Linked DNA regions of Homo sapiens. The protein of the gene in region 2 interacts with the protein of the main gene of each other region in a biochemical or structural test. Each region holds a gene or a part of one and is shown on either strand. Other genes may lie near its edges.

Evidence for each region. The genes of interacting proteins can lie anywhere in the genome.
Region 1: the proteins of DGKK (region 2) and DEPTOR interact in a test that uses a peptide from one of them, tested with the Homo sapiens proteins (one large-scale study listed by IntAct).
Region 3: the proteins of DGKK (region 2) and MPP3 interact in a test that uses a peptide from one of them, tested with the Homo sapiens proteins (one large-scale study listed by IntAct).
Region 4: the proteins of DGKK (region 2) and RGS3 interact in a test that uses a peptide from one of them, tested with the Homo sapiens proteins (one large-scale study listed by IntAct).

Annotation. Positions count from the first base shown.
Region 1 is NC_000008.11:120,048,070-120,051,418, reverse strand, and holds the end of DEPTOR (DEP domain-containing mTOR-interacting protein), read right to left. Parts: intron 1,844-3,349; coding exon 1,715-1,843; 3' UTR 501-1,714; downstream 1-500. UniProt on the Homo sapiens protein: Negative regulator of the mTORC1 and mTORC2 complexes: inhibits the protein kinase activity of MTOR, thereby inactivating both complexes. DEPTOR inhibits mTORC1 and mTORC2 to induce autophagy.
Region 2 is NC_000023.11:50,464,326-50,467,825, reverse strand, and holds part of DGKK (diacylglycerol kinase kappa), read left to right. Parts: intron 1-3,500. UniProt on the Homo sapiens protein: Diacylglycerol kinase that converts diacylglycerol/DAG into phosphatidic acid/phosphatidate/PA and regulates the respective levels of these two bioactive lipids.
Region 3 is NC_000017.11:43,826,647-43,830,146, forward strand, and holds part of MPP3 (MAGUK p55 subfamily member 3), read right to left. Parts: intron 3,486-3,500; coding exon of another isoform or gene 3,462-3,485; coding exon 3,381-3,461; intron 3,146-3,380; coding exon 3,008-3,145; intron 1,187-3,007; coding exon 1,105-1,186; intron 1-1,104. UniProt on the Homo sapiens protein: Participates in cell spreading through the phosphoinositide-3-kinase (PI3K) pathway by connecting CADM1 to DLG1 and the regulatory subunit of phosphoinositide-3-kinase (PI3K). Stabilizes HTR2C at the plasma membrane and prevents its desensitization.
Region 4 is NC_000009.12:113,470,227-113,473,726, forward strand, and holds part of RGS3 (regulator of G-protein signaling 3), read left to right. Parts: intron 1-3,500. UniProt on the Homo sapiens protein: Down-regulates signaling from heterotrimeric G-proteins by increasing the GTPase activity of the alpha subunits, thereby driving them into their inactive GDP-bound form.

The DNA.
Region 1 (3,349 bases), on a different chromosome or scaffold from region 2:
AAACCCTCAATATAAGGTCCTTAAATGGGGAAAAGTTGAGGGGAGTAACATGGGATTTAGCGTTAAACCTGTGTTTACATTCAGCCTATTTCACCTAGTAGTTCCTGCAGCCGTGTGAATTTAGAGACCATTTTAAAACTTGCTCAGGCTTAGTTTCCACATCTGAAAAATGTGGACGTTAATATCTACCTTGCAAGGTTGCATTGAGGGTTAAAGGATATCATATATATTAAATGCACAGAGCCTGCCATACAGTACAAATGCACACCCACACAGAGGTGATAGTATTTCTCAAATGTATATCAACAGTATTACTGTTAGACATTCTCTGTCACTCCAAAATCCTATTCTCTGACTAAAGCTACAAATCAGAAAAGTTGGATTACCAGAAATATATATATATATATATATATATATATATATGTCTATAACATATTTAGCACGGTAGGTCCATTCCACCAGTACCTATACATTACGATAACCTAATGAAAAGAAATGGCTGTGGTACAATTCTCATATTTTATTTTGTTAATGCATGATAAAAAATTAACGTCATCATTCAGATCCATTATTTGGAATGAAGAATTTAGTATTTCCTGACTGCCTAATTTGGCACTTTGAGGAATTTCCTCTGCACGCTGAGCCCCAAAATGCACTATTTTCTAGACCAAAAATGAAAACGTGCGTATATACAAGTGAGCTGAAAAGTTACAACACAAGATGATCATTTTGGTGAAAAATAATCCCCCCAAATAAGCAGCATGTCATGTCCTTAGAATATGTTACACTAGAAAGCTAGTAAAAATTCAGGCTAAGGAGGCAATTTAGAGTTCAAGTTTTATCACATATCAGCAAAGTTTTAGCCTTCCCTTAAAAACAGACACCTTCAAAGTGAAATCTTGCCAGAAGGGTTGATTTTTAATTATGTGTATATACAAACTTCTCTATTTTAACATTCAACATATTCAGGATTAATTCTAGAAAGATGCTATAGCTGATTTATAAAACAAAATGATTTAGGATCAGAAAGAAAATAGGGGCACACAATTTCATGTAGTCTCTCCCTAACTACCCCCAACCATAGCATCACAAGGTTTTTTTTTTTCCTAATGCCACAATTGAAACCTGTATTAACTTAAAAGTTGACACTAAAGGCAGGAATTAAGAAGTCATTTTTTATGGCTTTTAAGCACTTGAATGCTTTAGAACCCCCTTGAAAATGCTAGTGAACAGGTCTTATTCCTTTAAATGTTGCTTTGATTTGAATCTTGGTGAAATCTAGATTCCCTATTAAATAGCTGCATGCTAATTTTGGAGAAAGTACAATTTAAAACCTTTAACAACTACTCTATTGACTCTGAAGAAGGGGACTTTAGCATGTCGCTGTTTGGGCTAGAGAAGCATTTCAACACCTTTCTGCAAACTAAGATAAAAAACAATGAATGAGAGCTACAAATAGAAATCTAGTAAGGCAGTTCTATCATGTAGGAAAATGGTTTCCCAAATGTTTTCTACACTGACATTTTTTAAAAAAGATATGATACCCGGTTCTTCCACATTCAGTGTATAAAACTCAACTTTAGACATGTATGTGCGGAGAAGACTCGTATGTCCAAAACCATCCATTTGCATGGCAATCTTGTCTTTGCATTGCTTTGTGTCATTCTGGCTTCCCTCACCCACAGGCCACTGGAGGGCTGGGAGGCCCAGGAGCTCAGCACTCTAACTCCTCCATGACTTCCATGACAATCGTCCGTGGGCCCGTCAGAATCAGATTGCTCACGGTCCGGTAGTCTACATGCAGGACATTGAGCCCGTTGACAGAGACGACAAACTGACAGACCTAAAGGAAAGATGCAAAGAAAGAGCATCTATTATAGCGCCTGGTTTTGCACAAAGCTTTAATAAAGACAGTGTGTAGCCCTAACAGGTAACTTCATTCTTAAAATATCCAAATGTATCCAGCTGACGACTCCAATTCAATAATTTCCAAGGAGCTACACATTTTCTGGAAGGCAGTATAATTTAAAAAAAAAAAAATCGTTTTAGTGTTTTACAAAATTTGGCTTAAATCCTAACTCAGAGACATACTAGCTTTAGCTAGTATTTAAATACTAGCTAGGTATTTAAATTTCTGAGCTTTATTTCCCTCAACCCTAAAATAAGAATTAATAATAATAATAAGAGTAATACCTACCTTATAAGACTGTTGTAAGAATTAATGACATATATAGTTTCTACTTGCAGTAATTCACAGGCATGCTTGCTCCCAATTATTAATTATTAGTGTTGAGGACTCAACCAAAGAATGTAAAAAATACCAAAACACCTTGGGAACCATCATTTCCTTTTATTGTTTTCTGTGTGGGTAATATCGATGTAAACTTAAACATGATATTAAGTCCAAAAATATCTATACTTATTACTTAGATACAACAAAATTGGAGAGTACTGGGAAGAGTATTGGAAAGCTCTGTCACTGTGGAAAAGATGAGGGGACTTAGAATCAAAGATACAGATTTAAGTTATAGGTCCCTTTGGTGGAATACATTAATCAAGTAATTTCTCCTCTTCTATGTTTCAACGATATAAATGCCTCACTTGTACAACAGGTAAAAACGCCTATTCTCACAGGCTCACACTAGATAGTGCATTTGAAACCTCTTTGCAAACACCAAGCACTACACCGATGCTGAGTACTATTAATCTCTTTCCTTTCAAAAAATACCCACTTCTTTCACGGTCACAGGCAAAACAAAATGGAAAGCGGGCAGTAGTACACAGACTGCTTATTTACTCAATAAACACTCGCTGTTGTCATAAACCTTGATACTTTGCACTCCCCAACCTACTAGGGTGTTTTCTCCACATAAGATCACACTATTACTGTTTCTCTTTTCTTGGTTCCACAAATTTGTCTTCATGGATTCAGGGTACATCTTATACAAAATCAGCAGTTTTCAACCATGGTGGAGGTCACAGTCATAATCAAGGTCACACAAACAGGTCACAATCTATCCTGAACTAGGCCACAGTAATTTGCAAGACAATTTAGCAGTAATTTGCAATTTAGCAGGCATCAGCCTGGGCTTTGTTTTTTTCTGCTGCAGCAGACTCATGAGCCAAAGAATGAGAAGAATTTCACCTCCTTCCCAACCCAGAGCTTTAGACCCTAGACTTGGAAATTTCAAATCCCTTGTCTTTTCCACAGATACAGGGGTTTCTTTTTCCAAAAAGATGAATAGCCTTTTTGCACTGCCAAATAAGAGGGCAGGAGTTGCCAGGTGAGTGCCCTCTCCAGCTGACCCTTCGCAGGCTCCCTGAGATTAGCCATGTCTCCGCATCGCTC
Region 2 (3,500 bases):
ACCCTCAATGTTGCTATGCAATTGCTCTCTGGTGCAGCTGGGAACATCTGATCTTCAGTGATAGGATCATTCTCTCCTGCATCTTCCTCAGACAAATGGCACCTGCAACCAGCTGGCTTGTATCTTAACATTCAAGGCAAACAGGTTGTCATCTTAGCTGGGGTGATGTTGTTTTCAAACACTGCCTCCTCGAGGCAAGCTTGGGGGGAAAAAACTGTGCAACACGCACAGGCGTGCACACACCCCTAACACACACACATACTATACATATGTGCCCAAAATGTCAGGGAACAAAACAAAATACAGGTCTCATCATGCAATGAAATCCTCCATAGCAAGCATGAAACTATCCTGATAATTCAAAGGATGAAATGAGCAAAACCAAGTGTTTGAATATGACTGCAAGTTTCTCCCAGATAATTTTGTTGACTGGTATTGTAGCAAAAAACCAACATCTTTCAGCCTTGTAGTCTGCTCTTTTTTGGAATTTCAGGAAAGTTTCAGAACCTGCAATTGACTGAGAAAAGGGGGCTCATGTTTTCTTTTCAAATAGCTACCAGGATAACACAGTCAGTCTGTGAACCAAACATGTCTATTTCTTTCCTTTCTAAAATGTTTCAATTCCCAGGAAATGAGCCATGGTCTCCCACCTGGTGGCAGCAAGTGTAAGTAAGGATGTGTGAATTGGTTCTTTAGCAATGCTATAACTCTCTTGGGGGAGGGATGGGGCTTATATGAAGTAGACCATGTTTCTTTCTCTCTCATCAGCTGTGCTTGAAGAAAGACAAAATTTTGTTTATTCATTGGGTTTTGACCAGCTATGAAATGAAAATCACATCATACAAATGATTGATGAAAATCTGAGGGGAGATACACTTTCATGGCTTTTGGGGGAGATAAAAGGGGTCTGTGTATCCCTCCTGATGACTGCACAGTAATAACCATTATCCTCAAACCATATCAGGACAGCTTTTATGCACAAAACTGATATTTTTGTACATTTTCTTGCAAAATAGCAAGCATTTGTTTATATGATATCTGGTGATTCCTATCAATATTTTATTAGTGATTTCTGAGCTTCTCAAAAATAGGGGTGGCCTTTCTCAGTGCCTAGTTCAATGCAGCCCTCCTTGATTTTGCTTAATAAACACTTGCTGAAGCTTGAAAACTATCCATTTCCAGCAATGTAGAGGCTGCTGCTGTGAATGAATAAAAATTTGTTCTCATTGGTTTCAGAGTGAGAAGTAAATACTTATTTAAATGGCATGGAATATATAGCCCTTAAGGAAATACAGTCAATCTTTCCATTTTCAGAGTGGTTATTGGAACTATAATTAAGAAGCAAATTACTAACAATTTTTATTAATGGCTTGGAAAGTGTCCTTATCCCATGCAGTCCCAGCAGCAGCAGACTAATAATGATATTGTTAGCTTCAGGGGATAATAAATTTTTTTCCTAAGTGAACAGAGTATCTGCAGTGACTGTAAACAGATTTGGGATTATAGATTCAGATGTTTAACCTGTTGAAGGTCAGAATGAAATTACTTTCTTTTCTCTTCAGTTTTTCCCCCCTCCTTGCCAAGCTTTGATGATACCATCTGATTTATTTGGTGTATTCTAATAGTTCCTAAGCAGTCACTACAGGGTGTTCTAGAAAAGATAATGAAGTATTGGTCAGTGGTCTTTAGTTTCTCAGAGTACAATTCTTATGCACTTATTAAAATCTCCGACTAGGGCTTCTGCAGATCTGCAGCCCAAAGGGAAAGTGCCTCCAAGGAAAGGCAAAAAAAAAAAAAAAAAAAAAAAAGAAAAAAGAAAAAGAAAAAAATATCCATAGAAACCAGGAAACCATTCAGGGGTATTCTAATAAGGATTATATAGTTCCTTCTGCTCCTGTGGCACTTTACAGTTTACAGAGTGCTTGCCTCTGCATTATTAACCCTTTTATTTCCTTGAACAAGGCAGCAGGTGGGGGAGGGCAAAAATAAAACTTGACAGCTTATAGGATGTAATGATTGAATTTTCTATTGTAGATTTTTTTAAAAATCTGACATATGGCCTTTTGTGATACATAGGATCCTCATTTGTCTAAGAACAGTCTTTTAGCTGACATTTCATCAGCTCTGAATTTTTTTCCAAAGCGGTGGTTGCTGCTCCACTTCTGATGCTCCCAGAGGGGGCCAGCATAGAAGAGGAGCCAGAGAAGAAACGAGAAGAGGCAGAGACCCTGAACCGATTACTCACAAAGACCTTTTTTGTTGGTGCGTGTGTGTTTTGTAAAGGAAATAAATTGAAATCCTGCTAAGGATAGGGTGCCCGACCTTTCCAAAGCCCACCCACTGTAATTCTTTCAGTGGAAAAAAAATAATTTTAAAGGAAAAAAAAAAAAGCAAGCAAGCAGCCATTCTAAAGGGAGATGCCCCACCCTCACCAAAGCAAATAGAGCTCATTCTCAAAATAATAAAAACAAATTTATGAATTTTAAAAACGAAAAGAAAGGGACAGTGACCCCAGATAATGAAATTTATCTCTCCTCTGAAAATTATTTTAAGAAAAAAAAAGAAACAGCTTCTAAAAGGAAGTTATCCTCACCCTCATCAAAGCCCATGGAACTTATATCCCCCAAAGAAAAATTTTAAGATGAAAAAAGAGAAATCATCTTAAGTTAAACAGTATTTCTAACCTTAAAATATTCATGAAATTTGTAAACTTTATTTGACTTCATGGCTCATGCTTAATCTCTTGAGAAAATTAAGGGGGCAAAAATAAAGGGAAGGTCCCCCAACCTCATCAAAGCTTCCTGACATTATTTTCCCGATTACATAAAATGTGCAGAGGAGGCAAATCCTTAGAGATGGAAAGGAAATGAGGGAAGCAATATGGGAGGTGGAAAAGGGGATGATGGCTAAAGAGTACAGGGTTTCTTTTGAGGGTGATTAAAATGTTCTAAAATCAGAGAATGGTGATGGGTGCACAACACTGTGGATACAATAAAACCCACAAAATTGTGTATGTTAAGATGATGAATTTTATGGTATGTAAATTACATCTCAATTTTTAAAAATAGTTCAAAGAAAGATACCATCCCTCTAACCACAAGATAAGAGACCTATTATTCTCCCAAAAACAAAAAACAAACAAAATTGAAAAAAGGAACTAAAAGAAAGGGAGATCCTCTTAAAGGATCTTCAACCTCGCCAAGGATAATAACCTTTATTTGCCACCCCTTCAATTAAAAAAAAAGAAATTAAGGAAAACAAACAAAAAAAGGAAATCTTTTTAAGGGCAGATATTCTCAAAAATCATAAAAGTTAATGAAATTTACGAATCCTCCCCTCTAGATACACACATTTTAATTAAAAAAAGAAAGAAATATTAAAGGATAGGTCCCTGACTATACCAAATCTCCAGAATTTTTAATTCCAAGAAGCAGGGGCGCGGGGGGTGCGGGAGGGAGGGACAAAAGAAATACCACTCCTCCATGACTAAAGAGCATAAA
Region 3 (3,500 bases), on a different chromosome or scaffold from region 2:
CTCTTTGTAATAGTAGCTTGACAAGACCTGGGATGGTGGGGAAGGGTGTCAACCCTGTCCCACAGTTAGTAATCCCGCAAGCCCATGCTATATTCTTAACTGTCACAGTCCTTGGACTAAACCAACGCATGAGCTTTTTCTCAATCACCCCAAAGTACTCCATGACTATTTATATATATATATATTTTTTTTTTTTTTCTTTTTTTTTTGAGACGGTCTCACTGCGTCGCCCACTCTAGAGTGTAGTGGTGTAATCACGGCTCACTGCAACCTCAAACTCCTGGGCTCAAACAATCTTCCTGCCTGGGCCTCCCGAACAGCTAGGACTACAGGTGTGGGCCACCCGTGCATGGCCTATATTTTCTTTTTCTTTTTTTCTTTTTTTTGAGACGGAATTTCACTCTTGTTGCCCAGGCGGGAGCGCAATGGCGCGATCTCGGCTCACTGCAACCTCCACCTCCCAGATTCAAGCGATTCTCTTGCCTCAGCCTTCCCAAGTAGCTGTGATTATAGGCATGTGCCACCAAGCCTGGCTAATTTTGTATTTTTAGTAGAGATGGGGTTTCTCTGTGTGGGTCAGGCTGGTCTCGAACTCCCGACCTCAGGTGATCCGCCCACCTCGGCCTCCCAAAATGCTGGGATTACAGGCGTGAGCCACTGTGCCTGGCTTTTTTTTTTTTTTCTTTTTTTTTTTTTTTTGAGACAGAGTCTCACTCTGTTGCCCAGACTGGAGTGCAGCAGCATGATCTTGGCTCACTGCAACCTCCGCCTCCCAGGTTTGTGTGTTTAGTAGAAATGGGGTTTCGCCATGTTGGCTAGGCTGGTCTGGAACTCCTGGCTTCAAGTGATCCGCCTGCCTCGGCCTCTTAAAGTGCTGGGATTACAGGTGTGCACCACCATGCCCAGCTGGCCTATATTTTCTATTAAAATTTCTACTGACTTGGGAAGGAGATGAGAATTCCAGCCACAACCCCAGAAAGCAAAGCAAATCCCAAACAGGTGACCTGATAGGAGGGAGGTAAGGGGACCTATTAGCAAAGGTGGAGGGCTCTGGAACAATGGCCATGATCGGGGCTGGGCCAGCTTTGCACTGCCGCCACTCACCGCTCCTGTCTGCTGCGCCTCCTCGCATGATCCTGGCCACCACAACAGCCCCTGAGTGCTCGTCCCGCCGGATGGTGGCACCCTGAACCCGAGACAGAAGAGACAGGTTCTTAAGCAGCAGCTCCAAACCTCAGACCCCTACTCTCTGGACCCAACACAGCCTCCCCAGTCCCTCCCTCTGACAGTCCAGAGAGATCAGTGGGGACCTTCCCAATGCTGAAGACAAAACAAAACCAACATCCCCCATTAATATAGCCCTGCACTGTACAGTTTACAAGGCACAATAATGCTGCAACATTTTAGATGAGGGACTGGGGCTCAGAGAAGTTAAATATCCTCAAGGTCACCCAGCTGGTAAAGGGGAAAGCTTTTTGTGATGCCAAATCCAGTAAGTTCTCCATCACATCTCTCTCATATCACAGTTCCTACCACTTGCAAAGACATTTAATAATGAGGATGACACGTGCCAGCTAATTCTCACCCTGCCTCTACCCAATCACAGGGTTACCGGGCCTTCTGCTGCTGCTGAGGGAAACCAATTATGCACCCCAGCCAGGGCTTCGGGACCAGGACTTGGCCCATGAAGCACAGCAGAGATGACACTTAGGATGAGAAAGGCACTAACGAGCCCTCGATTTCCTGCACCACACAGGCCGGACTGCAGCAGGACGGCAGAAAGCTTAAGAGCTAAGCTCTAGGGCTGGACAGCCTTGGGTGTGAACACAGTTCTGCCGTTTACAAAAAGCATGTGGACTTAACAAGGAAATCTCTTATCCTCTCCAAGCCTGTTTCCTGTGAGATGTGGGACAGCATTTAACTCACAGTGTTGTTGCAAGGATTCCACTCAAGGCACTTAGTACACAGTAAGCACTCAACATATGTTAACCACTTATTAGTGGCTGTAACTGCAAACACATTTGCACACTTATTGTTAACATCATCTGTGCCATCTATTTGAAGTACGTAAGATAATTATTGCTAGAAAGAGAGGCCATCAGCTAAGAACCTCAGGACTTCTAGCCCCCCAGAACTGAGAACTTTCCAGCATCGCTATCCATCATTTATTCAGCTCTGAACCGCCAGCACCCAATACAGAGCCTGGATAGGAGGGCTCACAATGTGTTTGCTAAATCAATGGATGGCCACTCCATTTTACAAGTGAGGAAACAGAGGCAGAGGAGAGATCCTCGTCTGTTTGCAGAAGAGGCTCGTCGGAGGTCATTTGGGGAAAGTTGGAAATAGAGAATGCCAGCTGTGGGATCCTCTGGAGCCAATCTCAATTCTCTGGGCTTCCACCACTTCTGAGCATCTCATAAACAACGCTGTCCCTTTGCTCGGTAAATCAATGCTGAACCAGGACCAAAGTGATAGCAGTCTGTCTGCTGGGGAGAGGAATGCCCTGTGCTTCCTCAACATTCAGAGCAGGCATTGTCACACGTTTTCTATAAGGGGCCACATGTAAATATTTGAGGCCAGCCACACAGTCTCTGTCACAACGACTCAACTCTGCCATCGCACTATAAAGGCAGCCACAGCCAATCTGTAAGTGAATGGGCCTGGTTGTGCTCCAAAAAAGCTTTATTTTAAAAAATAAGCTGTGGGCTGGTTTTGGCCCTTGGGCTGTAGTTTGTCCATTTCTGGCTTAAAGCATGATCAGGGTCACCCTGTACAATTGTGCAGGTTATTAACTACACAAAGGGTGTTGGCCACAGTTGAGAGGGGCTGTATCCACCTAGAGAAAGGGGTGCCCTGCACACAGAGGCACCACAGGGATGAGCAGCAGCGCAGGCAAAGCTGCCGTCACTCACTCTGAAGACTTCGGGGAGGATCTTGTCCAGTGTTCTGGGTGGGGGTGAGAGGCAGGGGAAGAGTGGGTTAGAGAGGGGCAGGCAGCAGCACCTACCAGGGGTTCCTTGTTCTTCACCAAGCGGACGATCTTCACCGATTCCTCATCAAAATCCTCATCGATATTGTCAGGCAGAGGCGGGAGAACGGGGTCAAAATTCTTCTGGGCAACCGTGTCATGTACCATGAGCACAGCCTGCCGGGAAAGCCAGAGAAAAGGAAGGCTGGCCCGCCGCTCACAGGGTCAGCAGGCCGCAGCTGGCCGGTGGTATGGAGGGTGGCAGACGCCATGCCAGAGAGACAACTGCCCAGACACTAGTGCTGAGGATCGCTCCCTCAGTCTCCACTCCTCAGCCTCATTAGGAGAGCTCCCTCCGCCCCCATCCCAGGAGACCCAGAGGCATGGCTGGGCAGGGGCTCTGTGTGACTACCCTCAGGTGCGGGGTGGACAGCAGCTGGAGCAGCTCCCTCTCATCACTGTGCACGGAGGCGGCCTGCAACTCCTCCATCACCTGCAGAGAATGAGACAGGCGCCACTGATGGCTAGAGGT
Region 4 (3,500 bases), on a different chromosome or scaffold from region 2:
TGGGTGCAGTGTTCTTTGTGTATGTCAAGTTTAGGTCAAGTTTGCTCTTTATATTGTTCAAATATTCCGTATCCTTGTTGATTTTTCCTGTTTTCTCTGTCAGTTCCTAAGAGAGGTGTATTAGAATTCCCACTGTGATTGTAAATTTGTCTATTTCCCATTGCAGTTCTGTCAGTTTTTCCTTTACATATGTTGAAGCTATGTTAACAACATACAGATTTAGAATTATTATCTTTCTGGTGAGCTGAAATTTTTATTATGAAATCTATTATTGTTATGAAGTCTTCTTTATTTCTAGTAGGTATAAAGTCTAATTTTCCTGATATTAACATAGCTAACCATGCTTCTTTCATTTAATATTTGCCTGACATATCTTTTTCCATCCTTTTTCTTTCAACCTTTTTGGATCTACATTGTAGGTGTGCTGTGTCTGCTGCAAAGAACAGGCACATGGCTGGGAGTGGTGAGTGGCCCATGCTTATAATCCCAGCACTTTGGGAGGCCAAGGCAGGAGGATCACTCAAGCCCAGAAGTTCGAGACCAGTGTGGGCAACATAGTGAGAGCTCATCTCTACAAAAAATAAAAAAATTAGCTGGGCATGATGGTGTGCACCTGTGGTCCTAGCTACTTGGGAGGCTGAGGAAGGAGGATCACTTGAGCCTAGGAGGTCAAGACTACAGTGAGCTGTGATTGTGATACTGTACCCTAGCCTGGGTGTCAGAGTGAGACCCTGACTCAAAACAAACAAACAACAAACAAACAGTATAGGCAGAGAGTTGTTGTTATTATTATTATTTTCTTCTCAATGCAGACCTAGGATGATATTTTCCTTCAAAAAATCTTTGTTCGTTTGTCAGGTGCCTAGGGTCACTGGGTTAGTCTTAATTCAGTGTTGGGACTGAGAGTACTTGAAATCGAGCTGTAGTCCCTGGAGTAGCTGTGTCTGATTACAGTTCACTCTATTCCTATGGAGCAACCCTTCAGGGTCCCTATGCAAAAGGTGGGGCTCAGAAGAACCCTGCTTCTTGGTGGGCCCTGGTCCCTAGTTCCTATTCCTCTAGCCCTGAGAAGCAGGCAGAAACTCACTCAGTCTCTTGATCTCTCAATCAGCCCTCTGGAATTTGAAAACACCCCAGGAGGAAATTAGCCCAGAAAAACACTAGGTTTCCTTCTACAGTCCTCCATTCCCCTAGATCCTGCCTGGTAGCTCCTCTCTCTCTTGTTGTTTATCTAAGAAGATGCTTTAACATATTTTGTTTAGCATTTCTAGTTTTCCTCAGTGGATCTGTCATCCCAGAAATGGAAGTCCCCTACATATATTTTCTAAGCTTTTTTGAGTTGGTTTTTGTTTTTTTTTCCCTCCCTTTCTGCCTCTCTCCCTCCTTTTCTCCTCCCTCCCTGCCTCTTCCGTCCCTTCCTCCCCTCCCCGCTCTCTCTCTCCGTCCCTCCTTTCTTTCTCCCTGCCTGCCTGCCTACCTGCAGTTGTCCGAGCAGGCATTACTGGGGCTGGAGGGTCCCTTTCCAAGATGGCTCATTCACATGGCTCTCAGCAGGAGGCCTCAGTTCCTTGCTACCTGTAATTAGGAGGCTTCTGTTTCTCATCGCATGGACCTCTTCGTAGGATTGCTTGAGCTTCCTTATTATGTGGCAGCTGGCTTCCTTCTAGGCAAGTGATACAAAAATGAAAGCAAGAAAGAACTCCCATAAAAAGATGAGTAACCCAGCTCAAAAATGGGTAAAGGATTTGAATAGACATTTTTTTCCAAAGAAAAATGGCTAACAGCATGTGAAAAAATGCTCAATGTCATTAGTTATCAGGGAAATGCAAATCAAAACCACAATGAGATACTATCATACTAGAATGACTATAATAAAAAAAGAGCCAATAACAGGCGTTGAAGAAGTTGAGGGGAAATTGGAACCCTTGTACACTGCCGGCCGGAATGTCAAATGGTGCAACCACTTTGGAAAAGTTTGGCGGTTCCTCAAACAATTAAATGTAGAGTTTCCATTTGACCCAGCAATTCCACTCTTAGGTATAAATCCAAGAGGAATGAAAACACATGCTCACACAAACATGTGTACACACACACATGTTCATAACGGCATTATTCATAGTAGCCAAAAAGTCGAAATAACCTGAAATATCCATCACCAGATGAGTGGATAAACAAAATGTGGTATATCCATACAATGGAATATTATTTGGCCACAAAGGGACTAAAATACTGATACGTGCTACAATATGGGTGAACCTTGAAAACATTATGCTAAGTGAAAGAAGTCAATCACAAAAGACCATGCGTTGTGTGATTCTGTTTACATAAGTATCCAGAATAGGCAAGTCCTTAGAGACAGAAAGCAGATTAGTGGTTGACAAGGGCTGAGGGGAGAAGGGAATAGGGTGTGACTGCGAAAGAGTATGGGATTTCTTTTAGGGGAGGATGAAAATGTTCTAAAATTAGATAGAGGTGATTGATTACAGAATCCTGTGAATATACTAAAAGAAAATTACATGCTTTAAATTGGTGAAGTGTGGCCGTGCACGGTGGCTCAATCCCAGCACTTTGGGAGGCTGAGGCGGGTGGATCATCTAAGGTCAGGAGTTCGAGAGCAGCCTGGCCAACATGGTGAAACTCTGTCTCTACAAAAAATACAAAAAATTGGCCAGGTGTGGGTGGTGCATGCCTGTAATCCCAGCTACTCAGGAGGCTGAGACAGGAGAATAATTTGAACCTGGGAGGCAGAGGTTACAGTGAGCTGAGATCATGTCATTGCACTCCAGCCTGGGCGACAGAGTGAGACTCCATCTCAATAATAAACAAAACTGATGAAATGTATGATATGTTAATTATATCCCAATACAGCTGTTAAAAAAAGAAGGAACTAATAATACCTTTAATATCCTAATGTTGAAAGTCATCCACTGTCATTTCTACCACATTCTATTTGTTAGAAGCAAGTCACTAAGTCCAGCCCATGTCTGAAGGGAGGAACTAGGCTTCACCTCTTGAAAGGAAGAGTATCAAAGACTTTGTGGACAAATTTTAAACCCATGATAGGTATAGAGAGGCTAACAGTGGGGGCCCTGGACTGCCTAAATGCAAACCCCAGCTCTGCCACTTACTGGCTGTGTGATTTGGACAACCTGTTTTAGCTATTTTCTTTTTTTTGAGTTGGGGTCTCACTCTGTTGCCCAGGCTGGAGTGCAGTGGTGTGATCATGGCTCACTACAGCCTCAACCTCCTGGGCTCCAGTGATCCTCCCACCTCAGCCTCCTGAGTAGCTGGGACTACAGGTACACACCACCACGTCCGGCTAATTTTAAAAAAACGTTTTTGGAGAGACAGAGTCTTGCTATGTTGCCTAGACTGGTCTCAAACTCCTGGCCTCAAGTGATCATCCTGCCTCAGCCTCCCAAAGTGTTGGGATTACAGGTGTGAGCCACCATGCCCAGCCAACCTGTTTACCTCTTAATAATCTTCAGCTTCCTTGCCTG